Linked DNA regions of Homo sapiens. The protein of the gene in region 1 purifies or fractionates together with the protein of each later gene. This does not show direct contact. Each region holds a gene or a part of one and is shown on either strand. Other genes may lie near its edges.

Evidence for each region. Proteins that work in one complex are often made in the same cells at the same time.
Region 2: the proteins of CASP9 (region 1) and ACTR3 purify together in Homo sapiens (affinity purification with mass spectrometry; one large-scale study listed by BioGRID and IntAct). This does not show direct contact.

Annotation. Positions count from the first base shown.
Region 1 is NC_000001.11:15,493,216-15,496,715, forward strand, and holds part of CASP9 (caspase-9 isoform alpha precursor), read right to left. Parts: intron 2,238-3,500; coding exon 2,058-2,237; intron 787-2,057; coding exon 677-786; coding exon of another isoform or gene 569-676; exon of another isoform or gene 1-568. UniProt on the Homo sapiens protein: Involved in the activation cascade of caspases responsible for apoptosis execution. Binding of caspase-9 to Apaf-1 leads to activation of the protease which then cleaves and activates effector caspases caspase-3 (CASP3) or caspase-7 (CASP7).
Region 2 is NC_000002.12:113,928,089-113,931,588, forward strand, and holds part of ACTR3 (actin-related protein 3), read left to right. Parts: intron 1-3,212; coding exon 3,213-3,308; intron 3,309-3,500. UniProt on the Homo sapiens protein: ATP-binding component of the Arp2/3 complex, a multiprotein complex that mediates actin polymerization upon stimulation by nucleation-promoting factor (NPF).

The DNA.
Region 1 (3,500 bases):
AATTCAAAATTTCCAAATTCATAAAGTTCAAATCAGACTGAAATATTTGCAAGGAGCCAGGAGTGGCCCCAGCCTCGCAGCCCCTTCTCGTGGCATGAATACCTGAGCAGAGCAGCTGGGGCCCATACATGCTGCCTCCCAAGGCAGCCACAAGGCCACAGGACCCTCAGAGGAAGCAACTGCTCTGAGTCGGGTTTCTATGGAGTAGGACTGGGCCTATCAGGCCACCCTTCCCTATCTGTTTCCTCACTGGGGCCTCCTGAGAAGGCGATGTACAAGGAGGGGTTCACAATTCTTGAGGGTCAAGAGTAGAAGACTACATGATGCCCACAGGATATAGGGAGGGGCCCATGACCCGCCTTCAGGGTCTGGACAGAGCCATCCTGCGCTGGCACTGAGGACCAGCTCCATCAGTGGAGGAGCGGGAGGTGTCAACCTGGGGACCTTGGAGGAGACAGGGAAGGCAACTCTTTGAATAAAGGGCAAACGTCACCACAGGCAGGATGCCTCTCATAAAGAGACACAAAAGTGCCGACTCCAAGGCTCAGAGGCAGGAGTCTACTACCTTTTACCCTTGGTTTGGGCCTGCCCTGCTCACCCCAAATCCCCAGCCCCAGGAGGACACGCTGCCCCTCAGCAGCCTCCCCTCTCCTTTGCAGAGGAAGGCAGCACTCACCCTAAGCAGGAGGGACTGCAGGTCTTCAGAGTGAGCCCACTGCTCAAAGATGTCGTCCAGGGTCTCAACGTACCAGGAGCCACTCTTGGGGTCCCTCCAGGAAACAAAACCTTTGGAGGGAGGAGGGCTGAACACTGCTGGAGAGCCACCCCTCCGCCGGCTCCCCACCACCCCTCTGGCCATGCACGCTGGCTCGGGCGCCCTCCAGACCTTGACTCATACATACATCCAACAGGAGCAGCCTGGCCCCTGAGGCTCTGCCCTAATCATGATCTTATTTCACCCTCATGACCATCCCCTGATTCCGGCTATAATTCCTGTTTTCCCAGCAAGGAAACCAAGGCTTGGAAAAGTCAAGTGACTCATCCAAGACATAAGAAAGGAAGGAAACTGCCAGGCACAGTGGCTCACACCTGTAATCCCAGCATTTTGGAAGGCCGAGGTGGGCAAATCACTTGAGGTCAGGAATTCTTGACCAGCCTGGCCAACATGGTGAAACCCTGTGTCTACTAAAAATACAAAAATTAGCTGGGTGTGGTGATGCATGCCTGTAATCCCAGCTACTTAGGAGGCTAAGGCAGGAGAATTACTTCAACCCGGGAGGTGGAGGTTGCAGTGAGCTGAGATCATGCTACTGAACTCCAGCCTGGGCGACAAAGCAAGACTCCGTCTCAAAAAAAAAAAAAAAAAGGCTGGGCGCGGTGGCTCACGCCTGTAATCCCAGCACTTTGGGAAGCCGAGGCAGGTGGATCACGAGGTCAGGAGATCGAGACCATCGTGGCTAACACGGTGAAACCCCATCTCTACTAAAAATACAAAAAATTAGCCAGGCGTGGTGGCAGGTGCTTGTAGTCCCAGCTACTTGGGAGGCTGAGGCAGGAGAATGGTGTGAACCCGGGATGCAGAGCTTGCAGTGACCCAAGATCGCGCCACTGCACTCCAGCCTGGGCAACAGAGCGAGATTCCATCTCAAAAAAAAAAAAAAAAAAAAAAAAGAAGGAAGGAAACTACCGCTTGCTGCAACTACTACGTGCCCCGCACTGTGCTCAGTGACGTGCCAGCCACCTTGTTTAATTCCCATGGAAACCCCTGAGGCACGATTCCTATTCCCCTGCTAAAGATGCGAAGGCAGAGGCAGGGTCAGGCAGAGGAGAGGCAAGTGAGGCATAGGAACCCAAGGGCGCAGGCCTCCTTGCAGCGCGCATCCTTGCCCGCTCAGCCTGAGCCGAGGCTCAGAGAGAAGTAACTTGCTCAGGGTCACAGAGGGGCAAAAGACAGAACCAGGACTCATACCCTGGTCTTTTCTCTCACCACACAGCTGCCTCTAGGGCAGACGGGAAGACCCACTGGCTGCGAGGACGAGCCCTTCTGATGTGCTCACCTGGGAAAGTAGAGTAGGACACAAAGATGTCACTGGGTGTGGGCAAACTAGATATGGCGTCCAGCTGGTCGAAGGTCCTCAAACCTTCCTGGAACGGGGTGGCATCTGGCTCGGGGTTACTGCCAGGGGACTCGTCTTCAGGGGAAGTGGAGGCCACCTCAAACCCATGGTCTTTCTGCTCTGCAGGAAGCAGAAACAAACACCTCTTGTCATTGAAATACACAGACAAGGATGGTTCAACATATGAAAGTCGGTGCAATATACTACATTAACAGTGTGAAAGGAAAATAAATCTTGGGACCCCAAACTCATTAAGCCAAACGGAAAAGTCAAGCTGGGAACTGGGTCACGCAAACCTGCCTCCCCGTTTTGGTTCCTAAATAAGATGGCTACAAGATGAAAAGCTACACACCTCTCCCATATTTTGCCCACAAGGAAATTCCTGGTGAGCTCCAAGATAGTTGTCTGATAAAATTCACCACGGCAATGTAAATGGATAGCTTATCTTTACAGAGGCATCACCCCTCTGCCCACCTGGCACAAATGCATATCTGATTATTCCCCTGCCCCATTTGTCTTTGTTATCTTACGTAAAAATGCAGGTTCCCTGCATTTTCCCCTGCCCTATGTTACCTTACGTAAAAATGCAAATTCACTGAGCCAGACAAATGCTTGAATGACTATTTCCCCCTACCCTGCTCTTACCTGAAAACTGTGTACTTCTCAATATCCTGCCCTTTCCCCTTTAAATTTGGAACCCTAAAATTCATGTTCAGAGAAAGGCATAGACCTGTCTCCTGGGCGTGCATCCTTAACTTTGGCAAAAGAAACTTCTTAAATTGACTGAGACCTGTCTCAGATTTTTGGGGTTCATAAGAGAATGAAAAAAACCCTACATCATCATCTCAATTGATGCAGAAAAAAGCACATGACAAAATTCAACAAGCTTTCATGATAAAAACAGTCAACAAACTCAGAATAGAAGGAAACTACCTCAACATAGTAAAAGCCATATATGAAAAACCCACAGCAAACATTATACTCAATGGTGAAAGACTGAAACCTTTTTCTATAAGATCAGGAAGAAGGCAAGAATTTCTGCTTTTGCCACTTCTATTCAACACATTACTAGAAGTTAATAGAGCAAGGAGGCAAGAAAAAGAAATAAAAGACATTCAAATTGGAAAGAAGGAGTAAAATTATCTCTACTCACAAATGGTATGATTTTATATGCAGAAAACCCTAAAGATGAAACACTATTAGAACAAATAAAATTAGCATATTAGCAGGATACGAAGCCAACCACAAAAAATACTTCCATTTCTATACACTAACAATGAACAATCAGAAAAAGAAATTACAAAAATGGTTCCATTGACAATAGCATCAAAAATAATAAAATAGTTAGAAATTAACTTAACCAAGATGAAAGACTTGTAAAAT
Region 2 (3,500 bases), on another chromosome or scaffold:
AAAAATGAGAATTTCCCTTTTTACCTTTTCTCTCCCTCAACACAAAATACCTATCCTTTCCCACTCCTCGCATTGTAGTTACATCACAATTTTTGGTTAAATCAATATTCTGTGTCTTTCGGTGATTGTGATGGACTATAAAGTTGAAAGAACCATACTATGGACACTCATACACCCACAATCTAGATTCGATGATTAACCTTAACATTTGGCTATAATTGCTTCATGACGTCTATCCATCTTTCACTTCATTTTAGTTTTTAAATCACTTCAAAGTGAGTTGCAAATGGGAGTCATTTGACCCCTAAATACTTTAGCACGTATTTCATCAACTAGAGCTATCATTTGTGTATGGTTATTCTTTTCATATAAAATTTACATATCATAAAATCACCGGTCTGCACCATTCAGTGGATTTTGACCAGGGTTTGGCAAACTTTCTAAGGGAGCAGATAGCAAATATTTTTGGCTTTGCAGGGGTTATAGTCCCTGAGGAAACTTAATGAGAACTTTTTATACAATGGTCCCTGTCACAGCTACTCAGCTGTGCTGTTGTAGCATGTTAGCAGCCATAGACAATACTTAAATTCATAGGTATGTCTGTGTTCCAATAAATTTTTTTTTTTTACCAAAACAGGTGGTGGGCTGTATTTGACCTGCAGGATGCATGATGTGATTTGTCCAATCTTTGTCAGTTACATACATCTGTGTAACCTAAACTCTTACCAAGATATAGAGAAATTACTATCAGCGTGGAAAGTTTTCTCATGCCCTTTTGTAATTAATCTCTGCCCCCGTGCCCTAGTGACAACCACTGTTTCTTTTTCATCTGAGATTAGCTTTGCCCATGTTTGAGTGTCAAATAATGGAATCATGCAATATGTGCATTTTGGTGAAACACTTTTACTTAGCATAATCTGGAGATTGAATTATGTTGCATATACTGGTGATTTGTTGCTTTTTGTTGCTGGGTAGTATTCCATTGTATAAATTTGCCTCACTTTATCCATTTTCCTGTTGATGAATACCTGGGCTATTTTTGTTTTTTTTTTGTTTTTGTTTTTGTTTTTTTAAGACAGGGTTTTGCTCTGTTGCTCAGGCTGGAATGCAGTGGATCAATCATGGCTCATTGCAGTGTTGACCTCCCAGCTCAAACAGTTCTCCCAGCTCAGATTCCTGAGTAGCTAGGACACACAGGCCCGGGCCACCACACCTGGGTAATGTGTTCTGGTTTAGAGATGGAGTCTCACTTTGTCACCCAGGCTGGTCTTGAACTCCTGGGCTCCAAGTGATCCTCCCGCCATGGCCTCTCAAAGTGCTGCCACCATGCCTGGCTTAGTTCTAGTTTTTGGTTATAATAAAATAATTTGACCATTGTGAACCTTCTTCTACAAGACTTTTTGTGGACATATGTTTTCATTTCTCTTGTCTAAATACGTAAGTATGGAATTGCAGCGTCATAGGGTAGGTACCTGATTGGTTTTTTAGGGAAACTCATGGGAACTTTTCCCAAGATGGTGAACCTTTTTGCACACCCCCCAGTGATGCATTAGTAATCTGCTTGCTCTATTCAAGATTTGGCTTATCAATCTTTTATACTTTTTTTTTGAGACAGTCTTGCTCTGTCACCCAGGCTGGAGTGCAGTGGTGTGATCTTGGCTCACTGAAACCTCCCCGCCTCCCAGGTTTAAGGGATTCTTGTGCCTCAGCCTCCTGAGTAGCTGGGATTACAGGCATGCACCACCACACCTGGCTAACTTTTGTAATTTTAGTAGAGACAGGATTTTGCCATGTTGGCCAGGCTGGTCTTGAACTTCTAGTCTCAAGTAATCTGCCCACCTCGGCCTCCCAAAGTGCTGGGATTATAGATGTGAGCCACTGCGCTGCTAGCTTGTCAGTCTTTAAAATTTTAGCCGTTCTGGTGGGTGTGTACGATTTTTCATTTGCTTTTAATTTTAATTTTCATTTTCTGATAATTATGTTGAGCAGTCTTTCATGTACGATTGTTATTATTAGCTATTTGTATATTTTCCTTTGTGGGGTCCTCTGATTATCTTTTATGTAGATTTTTTTTCTTGGAGTTTATAATTTCACTGCCTTGGTTTTTAGTTTACTTAATTTTGTATGTATTCATCAGTAAATTATCTCCAGACTTTTAAACATAGCTCCAGAACTCTTCTAAAGAAGTTTAAACACCACAGGGAGTTTAGCTTATAAAGGTTTTATGTAAGGTAACAGTATACTTAGTTGTTTTGCTTTATATTTCTTTTGAAATAATAATTTTAAAAATATTTAATTTTTAATGGATTCAAGTTTTATCACTTTTTCCCTTTGTGATTTGTACTTCAGAAATTTAAGGAGTTATTCCTACCTTAAGGTCAAAAAGAGAATTCTGTGTCTTTTTTAAATTTAAAAATTTTTCTTTTACATTTAAGTATTTGAGATACCTATTAGATTGCCAGTCAGACTCACAAGAATCAGAGGTCTTACCCAGTGTTAATCTTTAAAAATTGAAACAGTTTAAGTGATCATGAGGCATAGGTGAAATATGAAGTCCAAGACTGCCAGATCTCTGAGTCCTTCCTTGCCTCTTTAGAGTGTGTTCTGTCCCAGACTTAACCTGTGAGGTTTCTAAGTGATGTATACAGTCACATAAACAGAAGAGTGCTCTGCAAACATCTTGATTCTATGCTCTTAACAGGTAAATTAATATAACATTTTTCAGAAAGCTGTACCATTAGATCTGTAGAATCTCGGCTTGTTTACTGTAATCCTATATACTTCGGGGACATTCATCTAAAAGCATTACTTAGATGAGGGCTCTCCCACTGGCAAATACCATTGATGTTTTTTCTGGAGGTTTGTCATTACCATATTTAAAGGATGATTTGACTGGACCACCTTTTCCCTACCTCCAACCCTCTCTCTCCCTGCTTCATTTCTTTTTAATGTTTAATCTGTATAAGTGGTATGATATAGGCATTCAGGGTATTTTTTTTTTAAAATGTGAATTACCATACTGTTTTCATATATGTATGGATGTTTGAATTCTCTATAGTTTTCCTTTGATCTCTGTGTCTGTCTTTCTACTTGTAAATTTAATGCATTTTAAATAAAATGTTTGAAATAAATTACTTCTCATTTAAAAATTGTCAAGAAAGTTATCAAAATAATCTGATATTATCTATTTAAAATGTTATTTATTTCAATAGACTGAACCTCCATTGAATACTCCAGAAAACAGGGAATATACTGCTGAAATAATGTTTGAGTCCTTCAATGTTCCAGGCTTGTACATTGCTGTGCAGGTAAGCAAGTTCATACTTTCTAAGTTTGATTCTTACATTTTAACCTAGTTTAATTTGCTGCCTAAAATACGTACTTTTTTTTTTTTTCTGCAAAGGTTTAAACATAATGTCAAAGCATGTTATACTTCTCTCCTGAATTGTTAATTTAGAAGTAATATTATGGGAAGTGGAGATATTTAGTCAGGAAAAGAG